Linked DNA regions of Homo sapiens: region 1 is linked to region 2. Evidence: fine-mapped expression QTL. A gene starts in region 2. The other region holds a variant in brackets. All regions are shown on one strand. Distances are between the middles of the regions.

Region 1 (10,338 bases), 40 kb before region 2:
CACTTGAACCTGGGAGGCGGAGGTTGCAGTGAGCTGAGATTGCACCATTGTACTCCGGTCTGGGCGACAGAGCGAGATTCCATCTCAAAAAAATCAAAATAAAACAAACAACAACAACAACAAAAAACAACCTTTTGTGCAACATAAGAGGCAAAAACCAAAATCCAAAACGTGAGGTTACAAAATTGACTTATCTCTAAGTTTTATGTATTGAGCTATCAGCTATTTAGGTATTTGTGAACCATCTTTGATTCAGAGGGTCTGAACAAATTTTATCCCTCGAAACCAGCCCTTACAATCTCATGCGTTTACCTCTTCTGCAATTGTCCCTGGGCCTAGAGGGAGGGTGTTTGATATCAAATCAGATTGGAGCCAATGGGATTTTAAATCATTTTCAGATTCTGGAGATATCAGGTAGAAAAAGAGAGGTAATCTTCATTTTTTACTTAATTGTTGTAGCTATAAAATAGCTTAAAAGGAAAAACAGCTTTTTGACTCTGGAAAACAAAACATAAGTAAATGTTTCGAACAGAAATATAAGTCCTATTTGGTTTTGACAACGACAGGAAAAGGAAGCTTACAGGTAACTAAATATTCAAATTATTTAGTTCAAGGCATAGAACAAATTATATTAGCTTAGAGGCAATTTTTTTTTTTTTTTTTTGAGATGGGGTCTCACTCTGTCACCCAAGCTGGAGTGCAATGGTGCAATCTCAGCTCACTGCAACCTCCGCCTCCTGGGTTCAAGAGATTCTCCTGCCTCAGCCTCCTGAGTAGCTGGGATTACAGGCGCCTGCCACCACACTGGGCTAATTTTTTATATTTTTGGTAGAGACAGGGTTTCATCATGTTGGCTAGGCTGGTCTCGAACTCCTGACCTCAAGTGATGTGACCGCCTAGGCCTCCCAAAGTGCTGGGATTACAGGCGTGAAAACCGCACCCAGCCAGATAGAGGTAAAAGTGTTAAATGGGTCTTTGAATACAGGCCTGTTCTTGTGTCTCTTGAAAGCAGTATAACTTCGGTTGCTGTCTTTTCCCAGGTCGGAAGACTGGGAGATCATGTAAGATTTAAACGTTTTCAAATTTGTTGAAACTGATTTATGGTCCAGCATGTGATCAGTTTTGCTAAACGTCCTGTGTAGGTACTTGTGAAGAAAGTGCGAGGCAGGCGGATCACAAGGTCAGGAGTTCGAGACCAGCCTGGCCAATATGGTGAAACCCTGTCTCTACTAAAAATACAAAAATTAGCTGGGCGTGGTTGCCGGCGCCTGTAGTCCCAGCTACTCAGGAGGCTGAGGCAGGAGAATCGCTTGAACCTGGGGGGCGGAGGTTGCAGTGAGCTGAGATCGTGCCACCACACTCCACCCTGGGTGACAGAGTGAGATTCCCTTTCAAAAAAAAAAAAAAAAAGAATGTGCGTTCCACAGCTGTGGGCTTAGTGCTCACACTAAGCATCTTCCTTGGATGTCTGTTATGCTTATTTTCTTTTTTTTTAGAGATGGGGTTTTGCTGTTTCGTCCCAGCTGAAGTGCAGTGGCATGATTATGGCTCACTGCAGCCTCGAACTCCTGGCTCAAGGGATCCTCCTGCCTCAGCCTCCCAAGTAGGTGGGACTCAGAGGTGAGCCACCACACCAGGTTCCATTATGCTAGTTTTCTTAATTGGCATTGGAGAAAACCATAAAATTAGGGGAAAAGGGTAGATACTAAAAGAGTGCTATTGGAGTATGATTGGAGGTGGAGTGAGAAAAGGAAATAGACCTTGCTTTCATGGGGCTGTTGAGGAGTCCAAATGAGCAGTATAGAGGCCTGGCTTGGTTGGATGAGATGGAGAAATTCAAGACCTATTTTTGAGATAGTAAGCCCGGACATTTAATTAATTAAAAATAATTGTATCAATTACTGAGAGTAAGAATACTAATAAAAGCAGTAACAGCAGTGGCAAAAGTAACCACACAAGCAGAAATACGAAAACCAAGATGATAAGACCATACAGTCCGGCAGTGTCTTACTAACAGGGTTGTGGGCGTCCCACTCCTTCTCTTCATCCTCCTCCAGCTCCTCCTCCACGTCTTCCTCCAGCTCCTGCTCCTCTTTCTTTTCCAGTACCTCCTCAGCCCCTTCTCCTCTGCCAGCCCCTCCTCCCACCTCCGCTCCCAGCCCCTCCTCCTTTCCCAGCCCCTCACCATCCAGCCCCTCCTCCTCCATCTCCTCCTCCTCTCTCAGCTCCTCCTCCTCCCCCAGCTCCTCCTCCTGCTCCTCCTTCTCCTCCACTCCTCCTTCTGCTCCTCCTTCTCGTTCAGCTCCTCCTCTCCCAGCCCCTCCTCCTCCTCCAGCCCCTCCTCCTCATCCAGCCCTTTCTCCTCTCCCAGCCCCTCCTCTCCCAGCTCCTCCTCCTCCTCCCTCCTCCTCCTCCAGCCCCTCCTCCTCCAGCCCCTCCTCCTCCAGCCCCTCCTCCTCCTCTTCCAGTTCCTATTCGGGGCGGGCCCAGCCCCTCCTCGCGGAGCGATCGATGGCTTGGGCTCGTCGCACACGCCTGCCCAGCCTCTGCGCTCGGCTCGCCAGGCCTGCGGCGCTGCCATGGAGACACGGCCCAGCGGCCGCCGGCCCCGCCCTGGGAGCCCCGCAGTGCGTCGCGCCGCTGCCCGCATCTCCGAGGCCCGCGACGAGCGGTGACTGGGGCGGGCGACGTGGGGGACCCGGGGATGCGGGCAGACGATAGGGGGCTGGAGGATGGGGCGACCCAGAGCGCGCGGGGTCTGGGGCGCGGGGATGGGGGCCGCGGGCCACGCGACGGGGACCCCAGGGTGCGCGCAGGTGGCGGGGACGCGCGATGGGGGCCCGGGAAGCTGAGGCTGACCTAGCGCAGGCATCCCAGGAGGGGAGGTCCCTGACGCTGCGCAGCTGGGAAGGCGTTCGGGAGTGGGTTGCGATGCTTCCCTGTTTGTTTTCTCCTGACATCGTTTTTGTTTGGGTCCAGGGGCCTCACGGGAGCTGGATGCTCGGAGCAGCAAGGCGGCCCTGGGGGCCCCTTCCGGTCCCGGGGCTGACGCCTGGCGGCGTCTCCGGGAACCCGCGCCCTTTCAAGCGCCGCTGGCTCCTGTTTCACAGATGGAGACCCTGAAGCCCCAACAAGCAGCCTCCCCAGCACCTCCCAGTGACTGAAAAAGCTGGCACTGGGCGCCCGTCTCACTCTCCACCCAGCTCCCAGGCTGCCCCACGGGACGTAAGTAGCTCGATCTAGGCCGCTGACCCCCAGAGACTTGATGCTGCGCTGCAGACTGCCGCCGCTGCCGGGGCGCTTGACTTCCCCTCTCCTGACAGCACGTTCGTTCCTTTGCAGCAGCACCTTTGGGGAGAGACGAGACCTGAACAAACGCTGGGGCTGGATCCCCAGGGTGGGTCAGAACAGCCGTTGCCCTGAAAGCTGGCCCGGACAGATGCGTGCGGGGCGTGCCACCGGAGCTCCTTCCAGCTTGCGTCTGGGGCCACCATGTCCCTTCCTCAGGGCACTGGATCCATCTCTTCAAGCTCAGTGGTCCAGGCCATGGTGGCAGAATCACCCCCCAGGGTGTGACGCCTCGTCCCTGTCAATTCCACACAGCTGCACCCGGAAGAGCTGTGGCCGGGCGCCGCTCTGACCTGTGTGCGGTCCCCTGAATGGGTCTCAGGTGTCTTCAGAATGGTGAGGCCGCCTCATTTCCTCACCACACAACCCTCCTGAGGACGTTGCCTGCAAATGGGCGGAATTCCTAATTTCTACCATTCAGTTAAACGAGGGATCCTTAAGCCCCAAAGCTGGGAAAGCTGTCCGTTAATTTAGTGCGCGTGGGCCGTCTCAGAACAGCAGGGTTCCCAGGAGTCCAGCGGGACGGGGGAGGGGATGAGTGGCCGTGTCCCCCTGGCAGAGAAGGCCTTGTCTGAAGGCTACGCCCGCCTCCGGTACAGGGACACCTCCTTGCTCATCTGGCAGCAGCAACAGCAGAAGTTGGAGTCGGTGCCACCTGGGACGTACCTGAGCAGGAGCCGAAGCATGTGGTACTCACAGTATGGAAATGAGGCCATCTTGGTCCGAGACAAAAACAAGCTCGAGGTCTCTAGGGACACAGGGCAGTCCAAGTTTTGCACAATTATGTAATTCCGATGTGAGCACCTGAACCCAGGACCACACTTTGAGGAAAACAGACCTGAGTTTCATTCAGTTGTCTTGTTGATTTCCAATCCTTGCTGGAAGATTTTGAATAATGAACGTGAAGATCAAACTGTGGTGTAAGAACCCAAGAAGCGCAGAATTGGCCCCCGAACCCCTCAGCACAGCCGCGGTGTGACTGGTGCACAGGACACTTCCCCTCTAGAGTCCCCTCCGTGGTCAGCTGTTGTGACATTTGAATTCTCCAGGTGCTGCTAGGGACAGCATAGGCCCGGGCACTGCTAGATGCTTGGTTTAAACCAGGCCAAGAGTAACCCTCCCATCCCCATTACAAACCACCTTTTCAAGTTTTTTAGGTTTTAGTTTTTTGTTTTTAGCATAAATGGCGGAGTAGCAGCAGCATCTCACCAGGAGCTTTGTCGCATTACATTTTGTATTTTGCTTTTTTGAGACGGGGTCTCACTCTGTTACCCAGGCTGGAATACAGTGGCACAATCACAGCTCACTG[T/C]AGGCTCTATCTCCTGGGCTCAGGTGATCCTCCCAAACTCAGCCTCCCAGGTAGCTGTGGCTCCAGGCGAACTACTGTATATAGAGACAGGGTTTCCCTATGTTGCCCAGGCTGGTCTGGTCTTATAGTCCTGGGCTCAAGCCTCCCAGAGTGCTGGGATTACAGGCATGGGTCACCGCACCAAGCCCGCATTTATATTTTGAGTTACCAAAATGATCATCATCTGTGAAGCATCATGGTAGCTTCCAAGCATTTGCGGCCCACTGGCCAGTGCATCCAAAACACATTCAGGAAACCCGAGAGTTGTAAGTTGCACATGTGTGGCCTACAGTGACTTCCATGTAGTAACAGGGCTGAGCAAGGCAGGCTCTCCACCAGACTTAAAGCATTCAACCACTCTGCCCCCAGGCCGACACTGACATGTGTTCACTGTCGCTGCCACAGCTGGCCACCTGTGTTCAGTCTCCATGAAGGATTCACCTTCTGCTCTCACTGACATCTCCTTGGCTACACAAATGTGCAGGTGTCTCTTGTCAAAGCTAATTTTTCTTTTCTAAATAAACATCCTTTAATACACTCCTCCCCTTCCTCACACTTATTTTTATCCTTGTTCGTAATATCCTACTTGGCTTCCCATTTTTTATAGCAGTAATATGTAATTGATTGCTAAAGACTGCAATACACAAAGGCATAAAGCAAAGCACAAGTGCTCTCCGTGGGGAGAACCCGGCCGGCAGCTGGGGATGCGTCCCACAGCTCCTCAGCATGCACACACGGTCACGTGATTCTGACGGCCTCATCCTGCACCATGCCTCTTGTATCCGCCATTTTCTTTCTTGCTCAACTGTACAGACTGGGCATTCACTTAATGCTTTTCTTTTTTTTTAAGAGAGTCTCACTCTGTTGCCCAGGCTGGAGTGCAATGGCACAATCTCAGCTCACTGCAACCTCTGCCTCCTGGGTTCAGGCGATTCTCCTGCCTCAGCCTCCTGAGTAGCTGGAATTACAGGTGCCTGCCACCACGCCTGGCTAATTTTTCTATTTTTAATAGAGACAAGGTTTCACCATGTTGGCCAGGCTGGTCTCGAACTGCCAATCTCAGGTGATCTGCCCACCTCGGCCTCCCAAAGTACTGGGATTACAGGCGTGAGCCACCGCACCCGGCCCACTTCATGCTTTTAACCTCTGACTCGCAGCTCTCCCGTGAGCCCACAGACGGGCACAGTGACAGCATCCAGGTTGTCATCTGTGCAAACAGCATGTTCTGAATGTGCCTGTACTCTGTTCGTGCTTCTCTTTGCAGCTGTGCAAGTTCATTCGCAAACGTCCTAGAAGTGGAACTGCTGGGTCAAAGTGCATTCCCCAAATGTCCTGCCAGAGGCCTGGTCGGCAGCAGCCTCCTGCACAGCCCGAGTCCCTTCTGCGAGAGTCCTGGCTTGTTTGCAGCCTGCAGCTGGGAGATTTGAAGTCAGACTTCCAGGATTGCCGCATGGAGCTGCAGAGGGAGTGAGCATGGGGCTGGAGGACCTGCCCCGCCGGCTGACACTCCCACAGCAAGGCGGGCCCGCCAAGGAAGCACTCCACATCCGCTAGGTAGGGTTTGTCTGCATCTTTTCAGTTCTTCAGTTTAAGTCCTGCCTGGGAAGAAAGCAAACTCCAGAGGCAAATCTGGAATGCCTGTGTGCCACCTTCTCACCGCACCACAGACTCCCCTGAGGACGGGTTGTGGCGGGGTTGGCCCCAAGCATGGGAGGCAGCGCAGACATGCAGAATGGGGTCTGAGGTCACGTTGCAACGCTGGCAGGATGTGTGCTCAAGGGCCAGTCTCTGCAGGGGTCAGGGCGTGTGGGCCACGCACAAGGAGCTGGCACTAAGCCGCTTAGGCTGCAGGAAGACACCATCTGCCTGGGGCGGACAAGGCCCCATGTCCGTCCTCAAGGAGGCTGGTCTGGATGAGAAGGGTCACAGTCTGGCCAGGAGTGTCACCGTGCCCCCTGACCCCATCTGGGGTCGGGCTGGACAGGTCCTCAGGCCTAGACGTGGGCCCAGCCAGAACCTTCTCCCCTGGCATGTCTCTTCCAGGCCTAGTTCCAGAGCTGTCATTCTTCGGCGAGCCGCGCTGCACGCCAGCCTCCAGTCTGGCAGTTAAACCTCACTATGAAAATCTGCTTTTGGGATTTTATTTGCATTTCCATTAGACTGAGCGCATCACAAGCCACTTCAGGATAGACTGAGGTGCAGAGGGAGGGGACAAGCGGCCAGGTTGACTAGAAGAGCACAGAACCTGGCTGTCTCGAAGAGGGCAGCTTGTTCCAGGGAACCAATGAACTGTCAGTAAAGGGGATTGTGGCTTCCTAGTGAGGCAAGAAATGATGCTCCCTTCATCCTGCCAGGGCTCAGGACAAGAGCTACTTAATGGTTTGATTATTATTATTTTTTAAGAGATGTTGTCCAGGCTGGAGTGCAGTGATGCAATCATGGCTTACTGCAGCCTCAAACTCCTGGCCTCAGGCCATCCTCCTGCCTCAGCCTCCCAAAGTGCTGTGATCACAGGCACGAGCCACTGCATCCTGCCTTTAAATGGTTTTTTGGGGCCCCTTTTGGATGCTCTGGGTGTTTTTGCCAAGAGTTACAGGATGTCAAGTGTGGGGAGCTCAGCACCCTTGCTGTGGACCAGTGAAGGCTGTTCCAGACCAGGTGCTTCCAGACATTTCCAGGCTCCAGGAGAGAGGCTGGGAGCCCCCACAGAAAGCACAGGAAAATGCAAAAAAAAAAAACAGTCTTTTTTTTTTTTTTTTTTTTTGCTTTTTATTATGAAAACAAAACAAATGCCCCAGGAGAAGGGTCCATGATTACCAGAAACATCAAAGAGTACTTTCTACCATTTTTATTCTGTTGTGTTGAGGCCAGCATTGCAATAAACAAGCTAAACTACTTACATTGGACTCATTTTCAGTAACTGACATTTACAGGAATATACTAGAAACGGCACTAAAAAGTTTAAGAAAAGTTACGGTAAACTTGCATGCACATCATACAGAAAAGTAACATTTTAAATATAAAAAAGAAAAACTTCCTGGAAGCATTATGCCAGTATTAAGGAACAGTGCTACTCTGGATGTGACAAATTCTGTATGTGGGTGTTACTCTTTCCCAAAAGACTGTCAGAGGCGTGAGTGCTGCAAAAGAACAACAACAAAAACAAACACACAAAAAAATGTGTCTTACAGTTTGTAAGCAAGATGACACTGCCCAACACAAAGAGGGGTCTGGAGTTCAGTTCACGCCCGAAGCCTGCCCCCTCGGCCTCCAGGGGTCATTCAGAGTGTTCTCAAATCCAATTCCGACACACGACTTGTCACTACTCCTCTCCCCTTGAAAAAAGCATGTTAGAAGCTGCCCTACAGGTCTCAGCAGTGGGACAATCTAATTGAATCACCGCAGCCTTCTAATACAGAAGAAACGGACGTGACTGTCACCCTCAGCCCGCCAGCAAGGGCGCTGAGGAAGTCATTAATCCTTCGAAACTCTGAAAAGAAACCAGTGTTGAAGTCTGGACAGAAAGCCTTAAAAAAGTGACAGCACCAATGCAGCTGCTCAGTGTACCCGCCGTGGGCTGTCAGGGTCAGTGGCTTCTTTCTAGATGAAAGGAGCAGAGGCGAGCCGACGCCACCGTCACAGAGAACCAGCCGAGAAGGAAAGGCCCCACGATGCTCCTGCTGCGCTGCCCCCACAGCCGGCCGCTCCCCCGACGGCTCACACAGGCAGCACCTCACTGCCCTGTGGCTGGAGGGGCATTGCAAGGAGCGCCCCCCAGCCCCAGGCACCCCCGGCTTAGGGTGTACGTATCACCCAGCCCTGTGCTGGCAGCACGTTACCAACCAGCCTGCGTGAAGACCTGTCAACTGTCGTGTGTGAATTCCTTAAATTCGGTTTAAATAGTCCATTAAAGATCTGTTTAGAAAATACCTTTGAAAACGAGGGTAACTTTAAAAAATGGAAACTTTCAAATCCATTTATATTTTTATTATAAACAAAACTTAATTAAAAGTTTAACAAACTGGCTGAAAACTCACCAAGTGTCAGACTCACCAGCAATTTAAAAAATGATAATTTACCAGCATCTCCTCATCAGAGTTCCCTCTCCAGTAAGGGTATACCTACATCTGTAAGGGTCAGTGGACTCTGAATCAATTTTATGGTTGTTTTAAAATCACCGTGTATTAGGATACTAATGATAGTCCCTATATCCATCCAGAAATGCTGGCAGAAAGCACTGGCCACCATACAGGACAGACCACACCACAGCTCCATACCCAGCGTCTGCCTGGAGGCTCCCCCACGCTGAGGTCCGGGAGAATGCCTGGTTTCAGTCATTTCCGGACTAACTGTGACAACGCGTGAGCAGGGAGCACCGTGCGAGTCTCCGGGAGGGAATCCTCCTGGGGCCCAGAGACTCCTCCACCCCTGGGGAGGGCAGACAGGCTCGGGAGGGCCTGGCCAGGCCACTGGAGGCTGGCAGGGAGCAGGCATGTCCACCCGCAAGCCTGGGAGGCTAACTCTGGCATTCCTGGCCGGAGCCGCCATGCTCATTGGTGGGCCAGTTTGGGACATCCCCGTACTCAAAGACCATATGGCAGCCTCTGGGAAAACAAAACCAAAACATCACCTTCTATTAAACTCTGTATATTATTATTTTTTACAATAGAAAGTTAAAAATCAAGACTTAGATTTACTATACATTTTTTCTCTCAGATTACAAAGTTTATATTATATAACTGGGGTTCCCTAAATTGATTTCTTTTAAAACAGTCTTAAAGAGACCAGAAGTGAATACAAAAGAACTAAACAAAATAAAAAATTAGAATGTGCTGTAGCTGAAAGCTGTCTATACCTGTAAGCCTCCAAGTTTCATACAAAAAAAAAAAAAAAAAAAAACCACAAAGAAAAAAACCAAAAAACCCAACAAACCCAGGGGCGAGCGCGCGAACAGACGTGGGTGAGCACCGCGCGGTGGCAGGAGTTAGCACCTGGAGACGACAGGCCGCCGCCAGACAGGACCCGCGCCCGGCACACCACTGGCAAGGCCTGCATCTCTGCGACTGTGTGAATGCATTTCTTCTGCGGTTTTTTCTTATTTTCTTTTTTTTAAAAATGACCAATGATGTTAATAAATAACTATTTATATACACATAAGCTCGGGAAGTGGTTCCCAAGGGTGGCGCGGCAGCAGCAGCAGGGGCAGCGCTAGCCAGGCGGGGACTCACAGCGGGCTGGACTTCCGTAGAAAATTGCCGAACCTTACAAAAAAAGTCTCCTTTTTTTTTTTTTTTAAATCTTTTCTTCTTTTTTTTTTTTTAAAGTTGAGGTAAAAGCTTCAGTGTATGGAAACCTGCAGGCTGCATACACAGCCGCTCTGTTCCCTCCGAGGAGCTCCTGACATCACCACGAGCGGAGAACGCACATCCCACCCGACCACCCCCCAAGGGCTCCACGCTCCGGGCTGGGGCTGCGATGACCCTTCGCTTAGGCCCAGCCTGGTCTCCACAAGCAGGCACATCTGTCCTCAGCCCCTCCAGAAAGAGGTGGCCGCGTCAGACACGAGGGTCAGAGCTCGGGGCCCAAATGACAAGGACAATGCGTGTTGACAAAGCTAACAGCTTTCAAATACAGTACCCATA
Region 2 (10,338 bases):
GCTCCATCTCCTCTCAGCCGGCCTGACAAGAACCAAACTCACAAAACACCCCGGCCCCAGGAGACAGGCCTGGCCTCACTGCTGTCCCACTCAGCCATGCCGAGCCAGGACAAGGGGCCAGCAGGGCCGCAGCTCTCAGACCATCCCCTTGGTTATTTCGTCTATGTTCTCTGCTCACCCCCAACCACAAATGCCGAGGACTGCAGGACGCCCCCAGGCCTGTTGCCGGGACAGACCGGAGGCAGAGCTAAGAGCAAAGCGTGGGCATGCAGCACATCTGTCTGTGAGTCCACAGCCCACGGAGCCACCGTGCTTGACCCTTGCCTCCTACCCAGCCCCTGGTACCAGCGAGGGCCTGGTCAGCATACCCAGGGCTCTGTCCTGTGGTGTGGGCAGATGGGGGCGGGTGGCACCCTGGACCCGCAGGCTCACACAGCTGCCCCTTTGCACATTTTGCTCCTTGTGGGATTGTCAGGCCAAGGCTCCAGTGACGCATGGCACAGGGAGGGCATCCTCTCAGCCGCTTATAGTAGATTCTTCCTTCTGCCACATGACAGGTTATAGCTACAATACTCAGCACTCCTGCAGGGGCCGGGCACCTCACACAGATGCATCTGTGCCTCATCTCGGTCAGTGCTCACACGGAGGCTAAGGCCGTCCCGCCCCAGAGTCCCACAGCTCCCAGGTACCGACTCTTAGTCCCAGGTCCTCACAGGTGCACTGAGGGCACTCCCTCTGCCCCAGACTCCAGGCCTGGCCAGCAGCCGCCTCTGCAGATCACACCCGAGTCCACTGGGTGCTTTGCAAAATGCTGCAGCTGGTTATCAAGCCACACTCAGAAAGATCCAGCCGGCGACTCCTGAACATCACTGCACCCTCAGCGGGACACTTTTCCAAGTGGCTGGAAAAGTTGTCTCCCACAATACCGGATTAACTTCTGACGAACTCAGTACCTTGGGGGCCTGCGGCAAGGAGGGGGGCGGGGGCATGTTCCACGCCCCATCTTCCCAACACCAGGCTCCGAAGGCCCTGTGAGGAGGCAGCCTGCGAACTGACTCTCAGGGAACAGCCACAGACTGGTGCGAGACGCAGACAGCCAACAGCACGGACACAACAGGGTCCGAGCCTCCAGCCACACGCACAGGTCCTGGCTCCACTGCGAGCTCAATCAGGAGTGGCCAGAAGACTTACAATTTAAACCACCAACAGGTGAATGGCCCAAAGTGACACTTTCTCTTTAAAAGAGCTCTCGGTCAGGCATGGTGGCTCACACCTGTAATCTCAGCACTTTGGGAGGCTGAGATGGGTGGATCACCTGAGGTCAGGAGTTCAAGACCAGCCCGGCCAACATGGCGAAACCCCATCTTTACTAAAAAATTAAAAAAAATTAAAAAAAATAGCCAGGCGTGGTGGCGGGCACCTGTAATCCCAGCTACTTGGCAGGCTGAGCCAGGGAGAATTGCTTGAACCCAGGAGGTGGAGGTTGCAGTGAAGGGAAATCATGCCATTACACACCAGCCTGGGCAACAGAGTGATACTCTGTCTCAAAATAAGTAAATAAATAAATGAGCTCTCAAGCATCTTGGCCGAGCATGGTGGCTCACGCTTGTAATCCCAGCACTTCAGGAGGCAGAGACGGGTGGGTCACTCACGGCCAAGAGTTTGAGACCAGCCTGGCCAACATGGTGAAACGCCATCTCTACTAAAAATACAAACAAACAAACAAATAAGCAAGCCCTCAAGCCTCTCAGATGGCAGGAGCCCAGGAACCAGAGCAGGGAGGCCCGGGCACAGGGGCCCATGATGTCTGTGCCCATGATTTCACAGGAAGGAGAATAGGCAAAGAAAACCCTATGCTCCGCCACCAGCTGGGCACCTCTACAAGGTGGCAGTACCAACAAAAACACAGGAGCAAGGCCATTCTTGGCAAACGCTGACCCAAATGCACCTGGCACCCCATCATGCTTTGCTACCTGTGCATCTCTTCTGCTCCAACAAGGGGGCGGAGCCACAGGGGTCGGGAAGGCCCAAGGCAGACCCGCAAGTTCCAAAACCTTTTACGGCAAGAAGCCTTGCATTCTACCATGATTCATCCAGTTACCTTCTAGCTTCAACCAGATACTGGCTTCGTGATATAAGGGACCTGCTGGCTAGGCACGGTGGCTCATGCCTGTAATCCCAGCACTTTGGGAGGCCAAGGCAGGTGGATCACGAGGTGAGGAGTTCGAGACCAGCCTGTCCAACACAGTGAAACCCTGTCTCTACTAAAAATACAAAAAATTAGCTGGGCGTGGTGGCGGACGCCTGTAATCCCAGCTACTTGGGAGGCTGAAGCAGGAGAATTGCTAGAACCCGGGAGGTAGAGGTTACAGTGGGCTGAGATCGTGCCACTGCACTCCAGCCTGGGCAACAATGCGAGACTCCATCTCAAGAGGAGAAGAGAAAAAAAAAAAAAAAGGAACCTGCCTAGGACAGGAACCCCGTCAGGTCAGTTATACTTTGATGACCGGTCAAGGAAGCAAGAGGAGGATCCTCTGACCAACTGCGTTAACTGCTTTGAAAACCAAGAGACCCGCAGCACGACTTCAGGCATGCCCCCACCTCCCAGGCAGCAACGCTGGGAAGAGTAGGCCCCGGTTCCCCATACCCCGCCCCGGTACCGTGTGTATCCACAGCAAAACATGGCTCTTCCCATCGACAACTGGGCATAGCTGTTGGTTTTGTGCCAATCACCCCACTTGGGAAACCCTGAGCCACCATGCCTCAGGGAAAGTGGTGGCACTTCCTGGTGGCACCAGGAATCGCACAAGGCCATCACTGCCGCCTGGTGCACAGGGCTCCCGCGGCTGGCATCTCCAGAGCCTGGAGGAAGAGGGTAGAGGAAGGTAGCACCGGCTGCAGCAGGCCTGGCTGCTTCGCTCTGCACACCCCCACTTTCACTTTCTGGGTATGACTACTTCGGAGTGTAGGGCAGGCACTGTTTGCAAGTCCCGTCCTTCATTCAAAGCTCACTCACTTCCGAAGCAGGCGCGAGCTGTTGTCAAAGGAAAGTAATTACTCTACTTTCTAAAAACAAAACAAAAATAAAAATGGAGTGACTGCCCACTCGGAGAAAGCTTTTGAAATCCCTCCTCCCCGGATGTCCCAACGGCAGGGCTCAGGCTGGAGCTGCTCCCACAGTCTTTCCAGGCACCCGGTGCCCTGCTGAGGCACCGGGCCTCTGAGGCTACCCGGAAGGTCAGAAAGAAATGCCCCTCGCTCGCCTGCAGCCCGTCCTGTTACAGCGTGTGCCTTATCTTTCATGATCAGTAACCACCAGCACCCATCAAGGCCTCAACAGAGAAAACGGCAAACACAGACCTTTATTTGCAAATGAGAGGCTGCATCAGGGCTGCCAGGGAAGAACCCGGAGGGAGGGCTCCCTAACCCCCGAGGCCAGCCCCTTGCAGGGGTTCAGACCTTCCTTAGACCCCGTTGGAAGCCAGTAACAAACTACTTTCCCCAGAAAAATGCCATACAACTTTGCATAGATTCCAGGATCTCCCCAGGCATACTACATGGACCCAGGAAAAAAAAAAAACCCTCCATTTTAAAGAAAAGAGTAAGGGGAAAAGCCTACAAAAGAGCAGGGTAAAAAGAAAACTCTTTTCCTCTTCTGTTCCTTCTCACAGGGTAGGGCGGGGGAGGACGGGACACACGAAGCTGCCTCTTGCAGTTCCAGCCCAATTACTCTGCCCACCAATGCACTACAGTCTCCCCTCCTGGTTAACTTTTGCAGACAATGACCAAGTTTAATGTAAGGGGGAGAAATCCCAGTATCTATTTCTGAGCAGAAAGCTTTCAACCAAAATTAAAGATCGCAACCACTCAAGGATTGGGTCGAACGGAGGAACCCACACGATGGACGCCGGGTCCCTGCCCCCGGTGGGTCTCGGCGGGCCGAGTTCTCGCCCTCCAGGGAAAGGAGGCCGCGCGAAGCCCCCATCCCGGCCCTGCCCCCGAACGAGCAACCGGTGGAATAAGACTTCCCGCACGCCCCAGCTTTATTCACAGAGAGCCCACCAGGGCCATGTGGGTGTACACGGTTCGGGGTGCGCATTTCTCCCCGGATGGGCTTGTATCACGTTGTCACTCCGGCGCCCCCCAAAAGTGGGAAGGAGGGGAAGCACCCCCGTCCCTCCCGCTCCAACTCGCCCTCGCCCGGATTAAGCGATTTTCAGGCTGATTTCAAAACGGGAACTGGGTCTCCCCCTGGTTTGGGTGCAATAATCCGGCAACTCAGGGGGGCTCAAAGTCAGCTCTGGGCCCGTAACTCTGGGAGGAGGCCGCGCAGAGCCCAGGGCCGAGCCCGGCCTTGCCCCCCGCCCCGGCCGCGGCGCGCGGCGACGGTCCCCAGGCGCGGGCCCCAGCAACGGCTCGGGAGCGAGGCCGGCGGAACAGGCGCGGGGAAAGTGGCCCCGCGGAGCGCACGGCCGCAGGCCGGGGCCGCCGCGCGCACCTTCCCCCTCCGCGTCCTCCCTGGGTTCCCCCTTCGAAAGATGGCGGGCGGAGGAAAGGGGGAAAAAAATCCCTTCCGTGAGGGAGGGCGCGCGGAGGCCGGGCTGGCGCGGGGCGCGCGGGCCGCGCCAACTCCGGGCTGCGCGCCCCGGCCGCAGCGACGCCCCGAGTCCGGGACGGAGGCGGCCAAGCGGGAGCGGGAGGAGGGGAGCGGAGCCCGCGCCACCGCCGCCGCCACCGCCGCCGCGACCCCGGGCGGCCGCCGCGCTTTGTTGCATCGTGGCCGCGCACAAAGGCGGCGGCGGCGGCGGCGGCCCCGGGCGCCCGGTTCACCCGGACGCGCCGGCGGACTGCGCGGGGCGCTCGGGGCCGCGCTCCCCGGCCCAGCCCGGCCCGCCGCCGCCCGCGCCGCCCGCCGCCCCGCGCGCGCAAGGAAGCAAGAGAAAGGCGTACTTGGCCTCGCGGCTCCGGCGGCCGTCCCCTCCCGGCCCGCGCGGCCGGCTCCTCTTTGGCTCGCCGGCCCCGGCAGCATAATAGACGCGCCGGAGCCGAGCAGGGCTCATGCGCTGCGCCGCGGCGCCTGGCGGGAGTCGTAGTCCGCGGCCGGGCCCGCGCCGGGGCCGCCCAGGGGAGGCCGCGGGCGCGCGGACTACATGTCCCGGCCCCGCCGGCGCCGCGCCCCGCCCCGGGGGCCCCCGCCCGCCCCGCCGACCCGGCCGAGAGCGGGCCTGGCCCGGGGGGCGCGCGGGGGCGGGGCTCGGCGCCCGCCCGGCAGGGCAACAACGCTGGGACCCCGTGGGCCGTTCCCCGCCCGGGCCCGCACGGCTCTCCTCACCCCGTGTCGGGGACAGCGCCTGGCGGCGGATTTTCCGGTGCCCCAGGACGGCATGGAAGAAGCGGGCACGCAGCCAGCACCGCAGCCCCCGTCCGGGCACCCCGAGGCCCGCGGGAGCCACCCTCGAACCCCGGCCGCGCACGGGCGGGGCGGCGCGCACCTGCCGGGAGCCCGTGTTTGTAAACAAACCGCGCGCCTAATTAGCCTGGCGGGAGCGCGCGCGCGGGGCGGGGGGCGGGGCGTCGGTGCGCGCGGGCAGGTCGGCCCCGCCCGGGGAGGAGCCGCGCTCTGCCGCGCCCTCCGTGTCACCATCTCCCCCACCCGACTTGCTGGGGCGCGGGCGCCCAAGTTCGCTGTTGCTGGAGAGGGCGCCAAGTCCCCAGAGCTGGCGAAGAGTTAGGGGTGCTCCCAGCTCTGCCTGGGGACCTTCTCGCCCCAAGCCCCGGTTTCCCCATCTGCCCAGTGAGGGGCGGGAACTAGATACCAGGTTCCCAGCCTGAGATTCCGGGAGAGGGCCACCCCTGGCCCTTTTTCTGTATCTTGAAAGGTTCAGCCCGTGGACACGTTTTGCATCTTGTTTTGGGTGATGACGACTCGGGTTTACACATAAATCAAGTTGTGGGGGGGGGGGTTTTGTTGTTTTTTTGGTTTTTGTTTTTTTTTTTTTTTTTTGAGACGTTAGTTTCGCTCTTGTCACCCAGGCTGGAGTGCTGTAGTGTAGTGAGTGGCTCGATCTCGGCTCACTGCAACGTCCGCCTCCCGGGTTCAAGCCATTCTCCTGGCTCAGCCTCCCGAGTAGCTGAGATTACAGGCACCCGCCACCACGCCCGGCTAATTTTTGTATTTTTTAGTAGAGATGGGGTTTCACCGTGTTGACTGGGCTGTTCTCAAACTCCTGACGTGAGATGATCCGCCCACCGCGGACTCCCAAAGTGCTGGGATTACAAGCGTGAGCCAACGCACCCGGCCACATAAATCAATTTTAATCCAGCTGTAACTTAAGGTGGTTACACGTTGTGTACATTAGACCCCAATAAAAACGTCAAAAACAAAACGAGGTTCCTTGGTGCCTGCTGAACCTGCCAACTGCAAGGTCGAGTTTCCTTGTGTGGGCTGCACCCACCCCAAGCCCCTGGGGTCCCCAGGTGTGTTCCAAGTTGAGCAGCAGCTCCACTGCCTGAAATGCACACATCTATGCAATATTCACAAAGTGAGTGCCAGCACAGAGACAATTCATCCCCATGCTCACCCAGAAGGCAGGTGTTCTGTTCCAGGCTGACAGGTAAGGAAACAGGCTCAGTGAGGCAAAGGGTCCTGCCCAAGGTCACAGAGCCAATTTGCAGGACGGCTGAGACCCAAAGCCCCGGGGTCTTAGGAAGAGTTTGCAGGGGAAGCCAACACCTTTCCCAATCCTGTCCCTCTGTTTCTGCTGGGAGCCCAGGACCTTCTCACACTCCAGGGCAAGGCTCTAGGACGAGGTTCCAGCCTTGCCTTTCTAGTTGGCAAAATGGACAAAGTGCAGTCCTCAGGCGCAGGAAGGTCGGGGAGGGGGAATATGAGAGGTGAGGATCTGCAGGCAGTTCCCTTAGAACTACCATCCTGGTTGTGTCCCCAAACCCCCGGTGCAGTTCCTCAACCTACAGGCTTCTGTGTTAGCCACCTTGGAGGCTGCAACCCATTCCTGCTGTCTGCATCTCATCTCCTTGGGTATCTTGAGCACTCTGACCACCAGGATGGCCACCTCACCACTTACACAGACCCCACTGCACTCCTCCCAAGGCTAGAACAAAAAGCCTTTCCGCCTGGTCTTGACCTCAAGGAACCCAGGTACATGCACACAGCAGGCTGCCCTGACCAGCCAGCGTGTCTGAGGCTGCTGACCAAATGCCCCCAACCCTTATGGGCCTCCCACTGCCCTAAGGTGACCCCCAGGAGTATGGCAGGAACCCAGGCGCTCCCTGGGCACTGGCTCTGATGGAAGCACCAAGGTCCCCTTCTTTCCCTTCCCGCTGCTCACCCACACATGAGTGGCCCGGATGGCTCCATGGAGCCAACTTTCCCGAGGCTGGAGAAGTCTCTAGGAAGCAGAATCTGTAAGGGAACAGGACAGAAACTCTCATTTGAGCATCTCAGCCCCTGTGCTACTATCTCTGAAGACTAGTTTAGGGGCCACAGTGGCAAACAGCTGAAAGCCAGCAGGGCTGCCATTGAGAAGGGATTTGGGGTGGCTCTGCAGTCCCCTCCAGCCCCTAGCAGCCCATCATCCTCTCCCTTCCTGCTCAGGCTCTTGGAATTTTAACCTCTGGTACTGCTGAATTTCCCAAGTGAAGCCACTTAATCTCCCCGACCCAGGTTTCCTCCCCTGTCACAGGAGGATAAAAATAGAACCTGATCCCGCAGCTCTGGTAAGGGAGGGGGGCATGTGCAAAGGTTGGGGCTGTGATCAGGAGCAGGCTGCTGCCTTTGCCTCCTTGGCCATCACTCACCTCTCTACCTTCACGTTTTACTTCCTGAGCCTCCTTGTGGGCTGTCTCACGGCTCCATGAGAGCAGAGCACTTTGTCCATGAGGTATCCCTAAACATCCTTCAACAGTATCTGGCACCTAGTGGGTGCTCAATACATAGTTGTTGAATGAATAAATGTTCTCTTCTGCACCTCTGTCCTGCCCTCCAGCCTCCATCTGCAAACCTCAGTGTAGCCCAAGCTCTACCAGTGAAGCAGCCACCTGCTCACATCTAAAGGAGGACCCAGAGCCAGGCTCCAGCCAGTACAGGAGCCAGGGCCTCAGCTGCCTCCTCCTCCTTCACCCACAATGCCCCTTAAGGCAGCAGTCCCCAGCCTTTTTGGCAACAGGGACCAGTTTCATGGAAGACAATTTTTCCACGGATGAGTGGGGGCAGATAATGGTTTTGGCATGAAACTGTTCCGCCTCAGATCATCAGGCATTAGATTCTCATAAGGAGCTCACAACCTAGATCCCTCACGTGCGCAGTTCAGAGTACGGTTTGCGCTCCTGTGAGAATCTGATGCAGCTGCTGATCTGACAGGAGCCGGAGCGCAGGCGGGAATGCTGGCTCACAAGTACTCACCTCCTGCTGTGTGGCCCCGTTCCTAACAGGCCACGGACCAGTAACAGTCCAAGGCCCAGGGGTTGGGAATCCTGCCTTAAGGCGCAGAGCAGTTACATCATGGCACTGAAGTTTATACATCAGTTTCTTGAAAGTTTCATTATCATGTGTCTTTCCCCAGGACTGACCAGCTCTCAGCACAACTTTTTAAGAAAATGAATTTCTGTCTCCACCAAGCAGAGGCTGGGCTACAGAGAACTCTGGAGGGTGGAGGAGCAGAGGTTTTTAATTATACAATAATTTAGTGCCTACTATGTGCCAGGCCCTGTGTCAAGAGCCTTATGTACACCATTTTACTGAATCCTGGAACAGTTCTATGACGTAGGGATGATTATGTCTACTTTACAGGTGAAAATGGAGGCAAAGTTAGGTTAAATTACTAGCCTGAGCCATGAACCCAAATGTGGGTTCATATTTCATTTACAAAATATATTCCAGAAGACTGCACCTTGGTAGGGGAAGGTGAGGCATTTAACTTGAGGAAGCAAATGCCCAGATCTAAGTTCATTAAACTTCTCTTAGAAAAGGGTGGGAGGCCGGGCACCGTGGTCCATACCTGTAATCCCAGCACTTTGGGAGGCCAAGGTGGGCGGATCACCTGAGGTTGGGAGTTCGAGACCAGCCTGACCAACATGGAGAAACCCTGTCTTTACTAAAAATACAAAATTAGCCAGGCGTGGTGGCTCATGTCTGTAATCCCAGCTACTCAGGAGGCTGAGGCAGGAGATTTGCTTGAACCCGGGAGGCAGAGGTTGCGGTGAGCCAAGATCGTGCCATTGCACTCCAGCCTGGGCAACAAGAGCGAAACTCTGTCTCAAAAAAATAAAAAGAAAAGGGTGAGGAGCCCCATGGAAAGGAGGGAACTTGGAGTTGAGTCTTCTCACTTTCCTGTTCTTCCTGTCCCCAACATGGAAAATTGTTTGCACAAAAATCATAGCAAAATCCTTAAAGGCATAGAGTGGAAAGGTCTCTGGTATAACCTAGGAGCCCCGGTGAACAGGGAGAGAGAGCTGTGCTGCAGCTGCATAAATGTGCTTGCAGAAAGACAGTCAAAAGGAGGCAGGCAGGACAAGAAGACAGGTGGGCCGGGCTCAGGGGCTCACACCTGCAGTCCCACAGTTTGGGAGGCTGAGGTGGGGGATCGCTTGAGCCCAGTAGTTGGAGGCCAATCTGGGCAACAAAGTGAGTGCCAGTATCTACGAAAAATCAAAAATGTAGCTGGGTGTGGTGGTGCACACCTGTGGTCCCAGCTACACAGGAGGCTGAGGCAGGAGAGTCGCTGGAGCCCAAGGAGGTTGAGGCTGCAGGGAACTGTGTTTGTGCCACTGCACTCCAACGCATGGGCGGCAGAGTGAAACCCCTGTCTGAAAAAAAAGGACAGAACAGGTGACCCCCACTGAGTCTTAGTCTTCACATCTGTAAGATGGGTACAATAAATACTTACCTCTGCTGGGCGCAGTGGCTCACGCCTGTAATCCCAGCTCTTTGGGAGGCTGAGGCAGACAGATCACAAGGTCAGGAATTCGAGACCAGCCTAGCCAACATGGTGAAACCCCATATCTACTAAAAATACAAAATTTAGCCAGACATGGTGGTACACACCTATAATCCCAGTTACTCGGGAGGCTGAGTCAGGAGAATTGCTTGAACCCAGGAGGTGGAGGTTGCAGTGAGCTAAGATCACGCCACTGCACTCCAACCTGGGTGACAGAGCAAGACTACGTCTCAGAAAACAAAAAACAAAACAAAACAAAAAAACAGGCCGGGCACGGTGGGTCATGTCTGTAATCCCAGCACTTTGGGAGGCCGAGGTGGGTGGATCACCTGAGGTCGGGAGTTTGAGACCAGTCTGACCAACCTGGAGAAACCCTGTCTCT

The links. PIP is the estimated chance that this variant, and not a neighbour inherited with it, causes the effect.
Region 1: its variant is fine-mapped to the expression of BRD3 in whole blood (TOPMed, PIP above 0.99).

What each region holds. Positions count from the first base shown.
Region 1 is chr9:134,022,866-134,033,203 of GRCh38, forward strand. It overlaps BRD3OS (BRD3 opposite strand), which reads left to right and starts at 2,616. Exons shown (of 3, transcript NM_001355256.2): 1 at 2,616-2,671; 2 at 2,980-3,225; 3 at 3,343-8,722. The coding sequence starts at 3,883. The coding sequence ends at 4,137. It overlaps BRD3 (bromodomain containing 3), which reads right to left. Exons shown (of 12, transcript NM_007371.4): 12 at 7,440-10,338. RefSeq lists silencers at 2,050-2,179, 2,490-2,909. The variant T/C (reference allele first, on the strand shown) is at 4,658.
Region 2 is chr9:134,062,995-134,073,332 of GRCh38, forward strand. It overlaps BRD3 (bromodomain containing 3), which reads right to left and starts at 5,032. Exons shown (of 12, transcript NM_007371.4): 1 at 4,951-5,032. RefSeq lists an enhancer at 1-506 and silencers at 4,478-4,727, 4,908-5,637.